Linked DNA regions of Homo sapiens. The protein of the gene in region 1 purifies or fractionates together with the protein of each later gene. This does not show direct contact. Each region holds a gene or a part of one and is shown in the gene's direction. Other genes may lie near its edges.

The links.
Region 2: the proteins of PRR27 (region 1) and NUDT12 purify together in Homo sapiens (affinity purification with mass spectrometry; one large-scale study listed by BioGRID and IntAct). This does not show direct contact.
Region 3: the proteins of PRR27 (region 1) and VWA8 purify together in Homo sapiens (affinity purification with mass spectrometry; one large-scale study listed by BioGRID and IntAct). This does not show direct contact.
Region 4: the proteins of PRR27 (region 1) and PSMG2 purify together in Homo sapiens (affinity purification with mass spectrometry; one large-scale study listed by BioGRID and IntAct). This does not show direct contact.

The regions. Positions count from the first base shown.
Region 1 is NC_000004.12:70,160,351-70,164,619, forward strand, and holds part of PRR27 (proline-rich protein 27 precursor), read left to right. Parts: intron 1-1,235; coding exon 1,236-1,247; 3' UTR 1,248-1,280; intron 1,281-2,344; 3' UTR 2,345-4,269.
Region 2 is NC_000005.10:103,552,181-103,556,449, reverse strand, and holds part of NUDT12 (NAD-capped RNA hydrolase NUDT12), read left to right. Parts: intron 1-351; coding exon 352-519; intron 520-1,596; coding exon 1,597-1,710; intron 1,711-4,033; coding exon 4,034-4,233; intron 4,234-4,269. UniProt on the Homo sapiens protein: mRNA decapping enzyme that specifically removes the nicotinamide adenine dinucleotide (NAD) cap from a subset of mRNAs by hydrolyzing the diphosphate linkage to produce nicotinamide mononucleotide (NMN) and 5' monophosphate mRNA.
Region 3 is NC_000013.11:41,569,311-41,573,466, reverse strand, and holds part of VWA8 (von Willebrand factor A domain-containing protein 8 isoform a precursor), read left to right. Parts: intron 1-2,760; coding exon 2,761-2,999; intron 3,000-4,156. UniProt on the Homo sapiens protein: Exhibits ATPase activity in vitro.
Region 4 is NC_000018.10:12,708,936-12,713,204, forward strand, and holds part of PSMG2 (proteasome assembly chaperone 2), read left to right. Parts: intron 1-3,766; coding exon 3,767-3,825; intron 3,826-4,269. UniProt on the Homo sapiens protein: Chaperone protein which promotes assembly of the 20S proteasome as part of a heterodimer with PSMG1.

The DNA.
Region 1 (4,269 bases):
GTCAGCTATCTTGACCTTCCTGGCTCCATCTACTTAACTCAGAGAATCTTCTGGGACTTTCTCTCTCTCTCTCTCTCTCTCTCTCTCTCTCTCTGTGTGTGTGTGTGTGTGTGTGTGTGTGTGTTTTCCCTTGCACCAAGCCATGGAAACTCACTCCAGGCAGTATGCTAGGACAATCATAGAGACCACCTACCTTGCTTCCTGTCTCTTAGTGATTACTATTTTACACAGCCTGATATTTAGATCTTGAAAAATTGTTCCTTCTCATTTTTCTTCTCATGTTTGCACATTATTTTTGTTTTGAGCAAGAGAGTAAATGCAGTTTCTATTATTCATCTTGAACTTTAGCTTTAGCGAAGTTTACTAAACTTTTAGAAAAACAATTGTTTTCAGACAAAAAAAAAAATGTAAGAAGCAGCTAGTCCCTAAATTTTAGTAGATATGACCCAAGGAATTAGGCTATTTTACCAAAGGGAAACCATGATTCTGAACTACATAGAAGATACTCTGAACCCTGGCAAGAGGCTAAAAACAAATGGAAGTTTAAATCCACCAATGAATTATTTATGCAGCACATTGCCACCACTTGGAAAGCTCTAGTAGTTGTTACCTAGAAGGAGATAAGAACTCTTTTTCTTTTAAGATATTCACCAAGGGGTTACATTCAATGGTGTTTGCAGCTTCTCTAGAGAGGTATGATGAGCCAGGCTTGTTCTCCAATGCTTCCAATGCTTCACACATTAAATATGTTCATTCAGTAGATTTGACACAAGCACTTTCCATCTGCTGGGGTATTATGAACACTGTATATATATATATATATATATATACACACATACATATATATACACGTATACATATATATATATATATATATATATATACCTGTAGCTCATGGTTCACATGACAGTAGAAGGAAATGATAGAAAGTGAAGATAAAAAGAAATAGAACCTGATAAGAAGGGACCTTGAAAACACTGCTCAATACCTTGGACTTCATCCTGTAGCCAAAGCAATTTATTAGGGACCTTCACTGAGAGGAGTGATTCAACCAGTTCTCTGTTTCAGAAAGCTAAATCTAGTAGCAGTATAGAATATTTTAAACATGTTAAGAAGAGATCAGCAAAACACAACTTCTCAGAGAAGAAAGGTTATTTAGAAAAGATAGGCCCAATACTATGAAATAAAGTACATTTGATTGTTTATGAAAAGATCTTTTTTTTAATGTTTTCTAGGCAAATCAGTGAAATTCTCTAGAAGAGTACCATGGGTTCATTTCTGTAAGTCATATGTGATAATATAATTTAGAAATTATAGATAAAGAGGTTAAATCTCATAATCTGAAGCTACCTTGGAATGTATTATATTTTTTACTACATGAAAATGAGAAAGTGGAGCTTAGAGAAGCACTGGTAGTTTGTGCCTCAGAACCTTTCAAACTATTAACTCATGTCTTGCGTAAGGAACTCAGGCTACTTTTGAACAAATAGCGAGTTCCTCCTTAAATTGATCCAAATTGATTATGACTTGAAGATTTTAAATTAACAGTAGTTAATATAGGTAAAAACCTTTAACGTGGGAAAAGAGGGTTGGACTATACATAGAAAGAGGCATTGTTTAAGTTCTTACAGATTATTCTGTATGCTATCCCTTCAGCCACCATCCTACCCCATATTAAGAACTACTGTTTTAGAAAACAAACAATTTAGACCTGAAGTCTCCCTGTCCCTACATTGTACCACCCAAAGGCACAAACAAACAGCTCAACTGGACTCACTGTGTCTTAGTCATCTGATCAGGGGATAAGCAAGAAACTTGGCCATCTTAATTTCAGGTTCTTCTCCTTCATCCCTTCTCAAAGATGTTCCAATTTTAATGTTTACCAGACAGGTAAATGACAAGGCTTTGACTGTCAGCCAAATCAAAGTTATTTCTGAGGTGACATCACTAGCTAAAGTAGAATTGAAAAGCAAATGTGATGGTATTTATTATTGTTGGTGATACCTCTTTACAGCAGCCATTGCCAAAGAAACTAAAAGATATCCATTTTTAGTTAAACCTTGACTATTGCTATATTCTTTGGTTTTCATTTATTTTACTTTTATGTTAAATGAACAATTGGCTAGTGAATTAGTTCAAGATATTAGATACACATAATAGTTTCATATATTCTGTAGCATTTGTATTTAGTATTTTGCCAAATAGCATGAATTTGTAGATAACCATTCATTATGGTCTTTTTGAAATAACATTAAAATCATAAATCAAGAAAAATAATTTTGCTTTAAGTGTGAGTCATTTGGTCATTTTATTATACTGAACCAATGTTATTTTCTTCTTTCAGATACTGATGCAGAAATAAGTGAAATCTACAAAAGTTTTCTTTCTTTTCCAAAGACTATTTCATTCTGTTGTATTCAGAGTATTCATCTCACTACATTGATTTGTTTGTGGTAGTTTTTCCTTGGACTTAATTTATATTGAAAAAACATTGATAATTAAATAAATAAAATAGATAATTTAGACCAATGGTGATAAGGTCTGGATGAAAACTACGCTATGGAGGACTGAAATGGCAATCATTCAGCCTAGCCTGGAGTCTGATTATACAGCTACTATAGGATGATGTTAGTATTGGTTTTGAGTGCAATAGGTTTTTTCCTAAACAAACATATTTTGTAGTCAATGAACTTTTTGTCACAAAACAGTAAAACATCTGTGTTTAACCTATGGTAAACAACATGTTAATGAACTATGCTATCCATGACTTAATGGACAGTTCAAATGTGACATCTACAGTTTTTCATTTCTCTTTTATGCCAGCACACAATCAATTCATCACCAATTGTCATTTGATTTACTTCAAAAAATATACCCCCAAATCCTAATACTTCTAACCTTCTCCACTGCATCTAGCCAACTCTAGCTATTGTCATCCCTAACAGAAATGGAGGAATAGCCTCTTTTTTTTTTTTTTTTTTTGAGACGAAGTCTCACACTGTTGCACGGCTGTAGTGCAATGGTGCCAACTCAGCTCACTGCAACTTCCACCTCCCGGGTTCAAGTGATTCTCCTGCCTCAGCCTCCTGAGTAGCCGGGATTACAGGTGTGTGCCACCACGCCTGGCTAATTTTTTGTAATTTAGTACAGACAGGGGTTCCCTATGTTGGCCAGGATGGTCTTGATCTCCTGACCTCATGATCTGTCCGCCTCGGCCTCCCAAAGTGCTGGGAATACAGGCGTGAGCCACCGTGCCCTGCCAGAATAGCCTATTAACCAGTCTACCTGCTTCCACTTTTCCTCCACCCTGATCACATACACACATGCATTATCCACTGAGCAGTCACAATCAGATGTTAAACCAAACATTATTCAGATAAGATCTCTGAAAAGCCTCTGATACTTTCTCTTTTAAAATGGAATATATTCTAAACACCTCTCCAAGGACACAAGACTTACCTTGTCTAACTAATGACTTTTCTAACTTCATTCCCTATCATTCTCCATCTTGCCCCATGCTCCTCATGCAGCAGCTTTTTTTTTTTTTTCCTTTTTCAAATATGTTGGTTTTGATCTTATCCAAGAACCTTTGCCCTGATGTATGAATGACTAACTGCTTTTCTACTTCGGGGGTCTCATATAGAAATCCTGCTTCAGAATACTCTTCCCTGAGCACTCTATCTAAATAAATCCCTCTTCTGCAACCCAGTGCTTTTTGTTCTATTACTGACTTCTTTTCCTTGTAGAAGTTACTATTACTGCTTTTTACCTTTTTATTTATTTGTGTATTGTCTTTGTTGTTGCCCTCATCTTATCTCCACAAAAATATATGCTCCATAAAAACAGGCATTTCTGTGTCTTATTCAGCACTTTATCAGGGCCTATAACAATGCCTGGGACATATTCAGTGACCAGTGAATATTTTTGGAAGGAAAGAAAAGAAGAAAGAATGAAGTAACAAACAAAGAATGAAGGAAGAAAAAATTTTTACAAACATTCAACATATTTTTATTTTGAAATAATTTTGTATTTTTCCCTATATCCTACATTGGATCAGAATATTACTGTTATGTATAGCCATGAGGACATGGTCTCAAAAAATGAGAAACTTTCTTAGACAGTAAAATTGTTAACTTGAGATGTTTGCTTCCATCTTCTAGAGCCAAGTAGGATCTAACTTTAATTTGACTTAGCCAATAATCTGAAACTATTATAGTATCTGTCTTTCACAGATACATGCAATATTCACTTCTAAATATTTAATGATAA
Region 2 (4,269 bases), on another chromosome or scaffold:
AATCACTATTGTAAAATCACTGTTTGTAAACTTACTCTACACTAGAATCATGAATACCCCAAATTTTAAAATCACCTACAGTAAAAGCCTGATCTAATATAGGATGTAAGATAGATGTCAGTATGTCTATCTTATATGAAAGTTATATTTTATTCAAACAAAAAAATCTAATTTTTGTAATCCAGAAAATTAAATCTTTTACTTTAAAAGAAGAATACGCATTATAAAAATAGAAATACTAAAACCCCTGATCACACAGCTATTCTTATTGTAGCTTGAGAACATTTTACTTATATATTGATTTTAATTTCTTACAGAATTAAAATTTTTGTGCTTTTCTTTTTTTTGAAGGGGTTGTAGCTCAAGCAAGATCTGTTCTTGCCTGGCACAGTCGATACAAGTTTTGCCCAACCTGTGGAAATGCAACTAAAATTGAAGAAGGTGGCTATAAGAGATTATGTTTAAAAGAAGACTGTCCTAGTCTCAATGGCGTCCATAATACCTCATACCCAAGAGTTGGTAAGCCCTTTATTTTATATCTCAGCCACCTGGATCTTGGGGAATAAGATATTTTGGAAAGAGAAAATTTGTGAGGAGCTAAAGAGTTTTCCTTTTTATGGAAAACATGTCTAACCATTAAGAATGTGTTAAAGTGTTACACACTTTCATGATTTTTAAGTAAAAAACATGGTACATCAATAGCCATTTCTTAACTTTGGGTTACTCACTATAATTTGATATGTTATGATACATGATTTCAAAAGCCAACCAATTTGGCTCTACTTAGTGGAGAAAAAGCCCCACTAAGTACAATTTATTGCCTGTTTGAGGCATTACTAAAGCAGTACAGCCTGGCCCTAGCTTTTCATTACTGTTAATGTCTGCCTGTATTCTCTCTTCTAATTGCTGCCTTGAGTCTGCTGTAGATTTGGAAATCTGGTAACCCAGACCTTTAAAACTGTGTGAAAGAAGAATAGATAGGCTCAGCAACACCTGAGGAGGCCTCTGGGGAGAAAAATACATGGCTTAGTGACATCTATTTTTGTTGCTCAAGAGCCTTTTACATTTAATTCCTAGTTCTTGGTCATGATATAGTGAGAAGAATTTGCTGAATTAGTAACTTCTAGAGAGATGAACTGTTATTTAAATTTTATTTAATGACTTTAATCATAGAATCACATTAGCTTTTAAAAACATTTTGTTAAGGGTTAGGATGGAAGAGGGAAATTAACTATTTACCGTGGTAAAATTTGAATTTTCCTTATTTCCATGTATTACCTACTCAAATTTTTTTCTCATTAAAAAGTAATAATACACCTAACATCCATAAGTACAGAATAAATGTTGCTGTTAAGATTGGGGGAAGAAGGACAAAAATGGTCTTCCTTTAGCTTACTGACACTATTCTATACAATTTCCCTGAGATATTCTATTATCAGCTACATTAGGGCAGAAAGAAGCAATCTCTTACAACCAGACAAGAGTTCTATCCCTATAGGAGATATACCTTTATATTATCCTATCAGACAGTGTTTGTACAATGAATCTAAATTCGTTTTTCCTGCCATTCATGTATCTGATTTTTTTTTTCAACAGATCCAGTAGTAATCATGCAAGTTATTCATCCAGATGGGACCAAATGCCTTTTAGGCAGGCAGAAAAGATTTCCCCCAGGCATGTTTACTTGCCTTGCTGGATTTATTGAGCCTGGTAAGCCATTTCTTAATAATTTATATTTAATTTATAATTTTAAAATACAAAGTTTAGGTAACATTTGAGAAATAATCTCTGATAAATTATCATGTTATAAAACTCGGTTATTTTAAGGTATTTTAAAAATGATACAATTTTAATAATATAAACATGTAATTCTCATGTTTTATATGAGAATTATATAAATTACTTTTCCTAGTAATTTGGTCTGCTTTGTTAAAAATTCAGTATTTGCTCTTTGATATGTTGCTCTTGACCCAGGTATCTAGGTTCCACCTCATTTCCTTCTGTACTAGACTCAACTGTTACCTTTTCAAAGAGGCCTTGCTTGATTGCCCCAGATACATTAGTTAGCCCCCATACCCTGCATTCACAATCCCTATCATCCTTCCTGATTTTTCCCTATGGCACTCATCATCACCTAATACCGTATGTAAGTATGTATATATGTACTTACTAATTTATTATCTTATGTTTCAAGAATATAAGTTTCATAAGCACAGGGACTTTATTTTATCCACTGCTGTATCTGAAACCCTCATAGCACATGCCTGTAGCACATGTAGTAGAAAGTCAGTAAATGTTTGTGGAGTGAATGAATACATCTAATTAATATGTTTTATCTCAATTTCAATTTCCAATATTTGCATTGCTAGATAATAACAGTAAACATATAGTATCAGGCTGTGTTTTGGAGGAGGATCATATCATATATATAAAACAGTATCAGGCTATGCTTTATATATATTTTTTGTATGATCCTTATACAACCTTATAAAATACACTATTACAGTGATTTTGCAGGTAGGGGCACTAAGGCATAGGGACTAAATAATTTGCTCAAGATCAAACAGCTAATAAGTGATAAGGAAGGGATTTAAGCCTGGGCATGTTGGTTTCTGAGTTCTTGCTCCAAATCACTATGCTGTCTTTAGTAGTTCTAGGTCATTGTCTTAACTGCTGGGTAGTAATCCATTCATGGATATTCCACTATTTATCCATTCTGCTGATTGGACATTTAGTTTATTTTAAAGTTCTTATTACAAACAGCACTGCAATTAATATTTTTATACTTCTCCTTGTGCACATTTGCAAGAGTTATCTAGGTTATATACATAGAGTAGTACGACCAGCTCATGTGTTATGAGCATCTTAACCTTTTCTGTATGTTGCCAAGTTGTCTCTGAAGTGTTTCTGCCAATTTACACTTCCTCCAGCAGAACATGAAATGTTCCATTATTCCACATCTTCACCAAGTTAGGATTTTCAGACTTTTAAATTTGTCATTCTGAGGAGTGAATGAAATCGTATCTCGTTTTCATTTTCATTTTCTTGCCTATGGAACATCTTTTTTCAAATGTGTATTAGGCATTCAGTTTTCTTTTCTCTGAATTTTAGATGTTTATCTTTTACCTAGTTTTGTTTTCATTGTTTATCCTTTTTTATTCATTTTAAGAATTCTTAAATATGTAGCATATGCTAATCTTTTGTTAGTTATGGTTTTGCAAATACCTTACACTAGTCTATAATTATATTTTTACTATATGTGTTCTTTTGATTATTATAAGTTAATTTTCATGTAGGAAATTTATCAATCTATTTGAAATAGAAAGCTATATTTAAAATATATTTTGCTAAATACAGCAATATTTAGCAAAATGTTTCTAAACTTCCAGATTTTACTTAGAAATGATTTTACTTAGAAACAATTTCCCCTATTCTAATTCTTAATTCCAACAAATTAGAAATATAAAGTACATTTATAGGCATCACTTACCATAGCAGAGTCAGCAGTCATCTAGAGGAAAATAATTGCTTAGAAAAAGTATTAAATTTCATCTTATGTAGTTTGTAATCTTGTAATGACCTGAAAAGAGTTACCTGCAATAATTGTTTGACAACATAATAAAAAAAAGTTTCAGAATTTTAGTGTGAAAGAGCTATTTGTAAAAATCATGTAATTTATAACTATTTCGTGGACAATATATACATGAGATAAGATATAAAGTGTTTGCATAGTGTTTAACCAGTATTAGGTATTGGATATTTTTAGATGGTATCATTATTTTTAAAATGTAACTGACAAATTTGTACCTTAAAAAAACGAAAAGTTTATTGTTGGCATTTTGATATTCTATATGTGGTCATGTACTTTAAAAAAATTGTTTTCTTCAATTACAGTCTAGTTTTAGGCTTCTGCTTTCTGATTATTTGCATTGGGTTTCTGTCCAAAGTGATTTCCAGATGTTTGAACCATTCAGGACACAAAGTGTCCCGGGCATGTTCATCAGCAACTTGTTCTTTTGCTCCATTTCATTAGGAGAGACAATAGAAGATGCTGTTAGGAGAGAAGTAGAAGAGGAAAGTGGAGTCAAAGTTGGCCATGTTCAGTATGTTGCTTGTCAACCATGGCCAATGCCTTCCTCCTTAATGATTGGTTGCTTAGCTCTAGCAGTGTCTACAGAAATTAAAGTTGACAAGAATGAAATAGAGGATGCCCGCTGGTTCACTAGAGAACAGGTAAAGTTCAATTTAATTTCCTTCTTCTATTGATTG
Region 3 (4,156 bases), on another chromosome or scaffold:
GCCACCCTGTTGTGCTAGCTAACACTAGGTCTTATTCTTTGTTTGTTTTGAGATGGAGTCTTGCTCCGTTGCTCAGGCTAGAGTGCAGTGGCACAATCTCGGCCCGCTACGACCTCCTCCTCCCGGGTTCAAGCCAGTCTCCTGCCTCAGCCTCCCAAGTAGCTGGTACCACAGGCACGCACCACCATGCCCGGCCAATTTTTGTTTTGTTTTGTATCTTTAGTAGAGATGGGGCTTCATTATGTTGGCCAGGCTGGTCTTGAGCTCCCAATCTCAGGTGATCTGCCCACCTCAAAGTGCTGGGTCTACAGGCGTCAGCCACCGTGCCTGGCTTGTTTCTTTTTTTTTTTTTTTTTTTGAAACGGTGTCTTGCTCTGTCGCCCAGGCTGGAGTGCAGTGGTACATTCTCAGCTCACTACAACCTGCGCCTCCCACACCCAAGCGACTCTCCTGTCCCAGCCCTCCGAGCAGCTGAGATCACAGGCGCATGTCACCATACCCAGCTAATTTTTTGTATTTTTAGTAGAGACAGGGTTCCACCATGCCGGCCAGGCCGGTCTCGAACTCCCGACCTTGTGATCTGCCAGCCTCGGCCTCCCAAAGTGCTGGGACCACAGACGTGAGCCACCGCGCCCGGCCTGTTTCTTTTTTTTTTTTTTTTTTTTTTTTAGTATTTATTGATCATTCTTGGGTGTTTCTCGGAGAGGGGGATTTGGCAGGGTCATAGGACAATAGTGGAGGGAAGGTCAGCAGATAAACATGTGAACAAGGGTCTCTGGTTTTCCTAGACAGAGGACCCTGCGGCCTTCCTCAGTGTTTGTGTCCCTGGGTACTTGAGATTAGGGAGTGGTGATGACTCTTAAGGAGCATGCTGCCTTCAAGCATCTGTTTAACAAAGCACATCTTGCACCGCCCTTAATCCATTTAACCCTGGGTGGACACAGCACATGTTTCAGAGATCATGGGGTTGGGGGTAAGGTTATAGATTAACAGCATCCCAAGGCAGAAGAATTTTTCTTAATACAGAACAAAATGGAGTCTCCCATGTCTACTTCTTTCTACACCAACACAGTAACAATCTGATCTCTTTTCCCCACATTTCCCCCTTTTCTATTCGACAAAGCCGCCATCGTCATCATGGCCCATTCTCAATGAGCTGTTGGGTACACCTCCCAGACGGGGTGGCAGCCTGGCAGAGGGGCTCCTCACTTCCCAGACGGGGCAGCCGGGCAGAGGCGCCCCCCACCTCCCTCCCAGACGGGGCGGCTGGCGGGGCGGGGGCTGACCCCCCACCTCCCTCCCGGACGGGGCGGCTGCCAGGCGGAGGGGCTCCTCACTTCGCAGACGGGCAGCTGCCGGGCGGAGGGGCTCCTCACTGCTCAGACGGGGCAGCCGATCAGAGACACTCCTCACCTCCCAGATGGGGTGGTGGTCGGGCAGAGACACTCCTCAATTCCCAGACGGGGTCGCCACCGGGCAGAGGCATTCCTCACATCCCAGACTGGGCGGCCGGTCAGAGGGGCTCCTCACATCTCAGACGATGGGCGGCCGGGCAGAGACACTCCTCACTTCCTAGACAGGATGGCGGCCGGGAAGAGGCGCCCCTCACTTCCCAGACTGGGCGGCCAGTCGGAGGGGCTCCTCACATCCCAGACGATGGGCGGCCAGGCAGAGACGCTCCTCACTTCCCAGACGGGGTGGCGGCCGGGTAGAGGCTGCAATCTCGGCACTTTGGGAGGCCAAGGCAGGCGGCTGGGAGGTGGAGGTTGCAGCGAGCCGAGATCACGCCACTGCACTCCAGCCTGGGCAATGTTGAGCACTGAGTGAGCGAGACTCCGTCTGCAATCCCGGCACCTCGGGAGGCGGAGGCAGGTAGATCACTCGCAGTCAGGAGCTGGAGACCAGCCCGGCCAACACGGCGAAACCCCGTCTCCACCAAAAAATGCAAAAACCAGTCAGGTGTGGCGGCGGGCACCTGCAATCCCAGGCACTCTGCAGGCTGAGGCAGGAGAATCAGGCAGGGAGGTTGCAGTGAGCCGAGATGGCGGCAGTACAGTCCAGCCTCGGCTTTGACAACTTTGGTGGCATCAGAGGGAGACCGGGGAGAGGGAGAGGGAGACGGGAGAGGGAGAGGGAGACGGGAGAGGGAGAGGGAGGAGGGAGAGGGAGACGGGAGAGGGAGACGGGAGAGGGACAGGGTTTTCTAGATATACAATCATATCATTGGTAAGCAGAATGACCGCTTTTAGAGTGCTCCCTGTCCCCAATTTTATGTGTAATTCATTTCACACACTTAAGCCTGCAACAGAAAAATGCACATCACAATTTTAAGTCACTTTCCTCCATCGTTATTGACGTGAGTACAATGTTTTTAGTATTATACCTTTGTTTATTGGAAACTCAACTCATTCCTTATTTTCCTCCTGTGTCATCTGCATCCTCCAATGTGATACCAAGTTTTATATTTTCTTATATTTTCTCACTTTAAGTGGAAGTGCAAGCTTCCACTTAAAACTAAGTGCCCACTGTGATAATTTTGGAATGATATCCTATATCTAATGAAATTCTATGCCAGATAACAAATATCACTGTATACTGTTGTCACTCAAATATGCAAATTAAATAGAACTAACTTAGAATGTACTACTCATGGGTAATAATTGGTATGTATGCATGCTCATGGTCAATAGAAAAATAATCGTATTTGTTAAAAAAGAAGTTTCTCAGCCATGGCTTTTGTGCAACTTCTTTTACCTCCAGACAATGCATGCCCACTCTCAGTTCTGCATGAGTGGGGACCACACGTTAGAAGGGACAGAACATGCCATCAAGGAAATTGTCAAAGAAGAAGCTGATGAGTACTTTGTCATAGTCTTGAGTGATGCAAATCTGTCACGATATGGAATACATCCTGCTAAGTTTGCTCAAATCCTCACAAGAGACCCTCAAGTAAATGCTTTTGCCATTTTTATTGGCTCTTTAGGTGATCAAGCAACCAGGTAAGTGTCATCTGAGCATACAGAAAAGGGCAGGTACAGAGATACTGAGTAGCTAACACATGCTGTTTTATAGGCTTAGCACCATGAGGGACAGTGAGGCAGATGGAGGAAAAACAGAAACTAAAGTTACTAGCCTCAAGGGGTTTATAATCTAGTTGAGGGGATATGTTCTAGCTTTTGTTTAGATGAACAATAATAATTTTAAATTAATTATTTTTTAGTTTATATTTAAGCCACTAATAAATCATTGACAAATTGATTTGTCACTAATAAACCGGGTAGTATTTTATACATTTGGCACTTTATGTCAAGCTCCTAAGCTCAGGCTAATCATTTTGTGTTCAAATCATATTAAAAATCGTGAACATCTACTATTTTCCTAGCATAGGAGATAGTGTGTGTGTATGAATGTCTGTACATATTAGACATATATATACACACATATGTATTATATCCCCATAGAGACATCACCTACATATATGCATGCCTGTATATATATATAGACACACTCACATGTATCCCTTCTTATTGCTGGAGAGACAAGGCAGGTGAAACACTTGGCGACAACATAAGATAATATACATATAGTTAGATACTACACTGAATATACTAAATATTCAATAGAGAATCTTATGATCAGACAATAAATACCAGTGGGTATGATCTGAAAGGAGAGATCTGGAAACACTTTCATAACTTGAACACAATAACATTTATCTTTTTGAATTACAAACAGAAAGAGCTCATGGTTTTTCTGTGTTTAAAATACCTGTAAGAAACATAAAACACCAGTGAAAGTAATCTTAAAAAAAAAAAAAAAAATCCCTGCCTAAAGCACAAAGGGCCTACGTTTTTGTTATTCCACCCCTTTTACTTTTCATACTCTGTGACTGGAAATGTTTTAATATCCAAAATGCTAGCAGCTTTTTCTCTTTCTATTCCCTTTGCCTTGCTGTAAGGTTGCAGAGCGAGGTTGAGAACAGACTTAATATCATGTAGTTACAGTCATTTTATGACATGACTTTTCATTCTTCTTAGTTTTTACAAGTTAGCACTTTGCATCTTTTAGAACCTCCACATCCTCAAACACAAACTATGCCTTTTCCACCCAGGTTTTCCTCAGCATCAGCCCAGTATTAGGCAGACAACAAGCTCAA
Region 4 (4,269 bases), on another chromosome or scaffold:
TCCTGATCTCAGATGATCCGCCTGCCTCGTCCTCCCAAAGTGCTGGGATTACAGGTGTGAGGAGCAACTGCGCCCGGCCCCCGTAAACTTTATTTTATTTTATTTTATTTATTTATTTTGGGTGTTTTTTGAGACAGTCTCGCCCTGTTGCCCAGGCTGGAGTGCAGTGGCACGATCTCGGCCCATTGCAACCTCTGCCTCCCGGGTTCAAGCGATTCTCCTGCCTCAGCCTCCTGAGTAGCTAGGATTACAGGCACATGCCACCACGCCCGGCTGATTTTTTGTATTTTTAGTAGAGACGGGGTTGCACCATGTTAGCCAGGATGGTCTCAATCTCCTGACCTCGTGATCTGCCTGCCTCAGCCTCCAAAGTGCTGGGATTACAGGCGTGAGCCACCGCGCCCGATTTGAGATGGAGTCTCACTCCGTCACACAGGCTGGAGTGTGGTGGCGGGATCTCGGCTCACTGCAACCTCTGCCTCCTGGGTTCAAGAGATGCTCCTGCCTCAGCCTCCCAAGAAGCTGGGATTGTAGGCACTCACCACACACCCAGCTAATTCTTGTATTTTTTTTTTTTTTTGACAGAGAGTTTTGCTCTTGTTGCCCAGGCTGTAGTGCAATGCCACGATTTTGGTTCACTGCAACCTCCACCTCCCGGGTTCAAGCAATTCTCTTGCCTCAGCCTCTGGAGTAGTTGGGATTACAGGTCCACGCCCCCACGCCCAGCTAATATTTTGTATTTTTAGTAGAGATGAGGTTTCACCATGCAAGTCAGGCTGGTGTTGAACTCCTGACCTCAGGTGATCCAACCACCTTGGCCTTCCAGAGTGCTGGGATTACAGGCGTGAGCCACCACGCCTGGCCTAATTTTTGTATTTTTAGTAGAGACAGGGTTTCACCATGTTGGCCAGGTGGGTCTTGAACTCCTGACCTCAGGCAGTTCACCCGCCTCAGCCTCCCAAAGTGCCGGAATTACAGGTATGAGCCACCACGCCCAGCCCTCATAAACTTTTTTTTTTTTTTTTGAGATGGAGTCTTGCTCTGTCGCCCAGTCTGGAGTGCGGTGGCACGATCTCGGCTCACTGCAAGCTCTGCCTCCCGGGTTCACGCCATTCTTCCGCCTCAGCCTCCCAAGTAGCTGGGACTACAGACACCCGCCATCACGCCCGGCTACTTTTTTTGTATTTTTAGTAAGACGGGGTTTCACTGTGTTAGCCAGGATGGTCTCCATCTGCTGACCTCATGATCTGCCCGCCTCAGCTTCCCAAAGTGCTGGGATTACAGGTGTGAGCCACCACGCCCGCCCCTTTTAAAGCATCTGTGATTTCACCATTTATCTACCCAAGCTTCACCATAAATTTGATGTTCTTGCTTCAGTTTAAGCAGAATTCATGTTGCTGTGATAGGGGCACTTAATGCCTTATCCTTCTTAGTGCCTCAAACCAGATCCTTTTCAGGCGTGTTACAGCAAGTCAGTACAAGTTTATTTTGGTGCAAAATGTTTTCGTAAGTACACATTTCCTGTGAACTTTTTGAAGACCCCTCATATATCCGATTGTTGTGCTGTGCCCTTGAAATCTCTTTTACTCTAGAGCAGTCCCTTTTTTTTCATCACAAACCGATTTATTGAAGAAAAGACTAGGTGTATTGTTTTGTACAATGTCCCACCTTCTGATTTGTCTGATTACGTCCTCTTGTCACTTGGCTTGTTGTTCTAGCCCCTGTGTTTTCTGTAACTGGAGTTAGCTCTAAAGGCTTGATTAGATAAAAGGTTAATGTTTTGGGGCAGAATACAGAAAAGGTGTTGTTGCTTTCGTAATGTATCACATCAGAAGAAAAAAGTACTAGGAAACAGGAACCTAACAACAAAAAGAATTGCATAGGCCGGGCACGGTGGCCCATGCTAGTAATCCTAGCGCTTTGGGAGGCCAAGACGGGTGGATTGCCTGAGCTCAGGAGTTCGAGACCAGCCTGGGTAACATGATGAAACTCTGTCTCTACTAAAATACAAAAAATTAACCCGTTGTGACGGTGTGCATCTGAAATCCCAGCTACTCAGGAGGCTGAGACAGGAGAATCGCTTGAACCCAGGAGGTAGAGGTTGCAGTGACCCGAGATCACACCATTGTACTCCAGTCTGGGTGATAGAGCAAGACTCTGTCTTAAAAAACAAACAAAAAACAAAAATTAGCCAGGCGTGGTGGTGTGCTCCTGTAATCCCAGCTACTTGAGAGGCTGACACACAAGAATCACTTGAACCTGGGAGGCAGAAGTTGGAGTGAGCCGATATCGCACCACTGCACTTCAGCCTGGGTGACAGAGCGAGACTCTGTCTCAAAAAAAAAGAATTGTATGATACGCTGATGAGGAGAGTATTGCTATCACCGAAGAAGTGGTAGCTTACATTTTAAAAAGCTTAGCCTGTCCACCCCCTACAGATACATTCTTTTCAAACCTAGGTCAGTTGAATTGGACTACATGTGTTTGTCACAGATAGGTTAGAGGCTGAGTAATCTTTGCCTTAGTCTCTTTTCCCTAAATTTATACCCTTTTCCCTAATTCCTAAACTTCCTTTGGACTGAACATACCTGGTGCTTGCTAGATTTGCTGAGTTCAGCATACCCCCCAGTCACACCACATCACGCCAGCCATAGGAGACAATTTCCGAAAGACCTGTAACAGTAGAGACCTGATCCACCAAAGGATTTGCTGTTATTTGCAATCTGTTTATGGTAACCAACACTTACCCCTTAGCACAGTAGTAATCCTGTGTCCTTAGAGAGTATTTTATCCCTGACTCAGGAGCTTCTCATTCTTTTTTTTTTTTTTTTTTTTTGAGATGGAGTCTTGTTCTGTTGCCCAAGCTGGAGTGCAGTGGCGCGATCTCTGCTCACTGCAAGCTCCGCCCCCCGGGTTCACGCCGTTCTCCTGCCTCAGCCTCCTGAGTAGCTAGGACTACAGGTGCCCGCCGCCAAGCCTGGCTAATTTTTTTATTTTTTAGTAGAGACGGGGTTTCATTCACCATGTTAGCTAGGATGATCTTGATCTCCTGACCTTGTGATCCACCTGCCTCAGCCTCCCAAGGTGCTGGGATTACAGGCGTGAGCCACCATGCCCAGCTGCTTCTCATTCTTAGAAATGAAGTTGGGCAGGGAAGCCTTAAGCATTTCTAGAGTGTGCCCCTTGTAGAACCTGATGAAAGCTATGGATCCTTTTCCCAGTAAAAAATACAAACACATTGACTCACATGACATTTTATGTTATTTCAGATCCTTTAAAAAGTTCTAAGGAACACACATGTACCTATTTCAGGATTTTATTACATGGCTAACATTCTCCTACCTTTTACTGTTTTTTCTGTTAATCCCAATGAGTGTTGCTGTTCTCTGGAGACAAAGAGGGGAGAATATCAAAAGCCAAAAAGTTCAGTTTTCTTAAGGATGATTTTATTTGTCATAATACCAGAAATTTTCAGGGGAATACTTCTCTGGTTTTGCAGTTAAAGTCAAAAGAAAAATAATTTTTTATATTTTCTTACAGTTAACTTTTCAGAAATGAATCTGTTCCATAGAATAAAGCCCACTGGCTTATTTTAAGGTACTTCTAAAAGGTCTTATTTTAACCAGATGTCATATATGTTCCGTATTTTAATTATTGAAAACATTTAAATGCAAAAGGTATTATAATTCAATTTTTGTTTATCATAATAATTTCAACTTGTATAACTTCACTGTCATATGATTTCATTTTCTTCTTGTTTTTATAGTGTATTCATTGCCTTCAAGAAAGCTGGTGGCTCTACAGTTAAGATCCATTTTTATTAAGGTTAGTATGTTGTAGTTTGCCTTTTTGTTTATTAAAGTGTAATGAGAAAATAAGTAACATTAGGGATTAAGATTCAAAAATTACTACTGTTTTTACCATATGTACAGTTAAGATCTGATTCTACAGAGAAATAATCTTACAATATTTCAGATGTGTTACTGTCTTTTCATGATTATATAGAAAGGAAGCAGGGCTTTTATCTTGAGTGTTAACATATTTTCAGTTCGGGTAGCATTGGTGAAAAAATGTAAGCATATTAATATTAGAGGTTTATTCCATTTGTATTACCTTTCAGCTGGTGGCATCTACATATAAACTATGTATATATCAAATTATGTATATGTCATAAAATATTCTGAATCCGACTTCTTTCCTCCTCCACTGCTGTCATTGAGTGCAAACCAGTGTCATCTTCATGCCCCTGACTAACTTGCTGATCTGCCT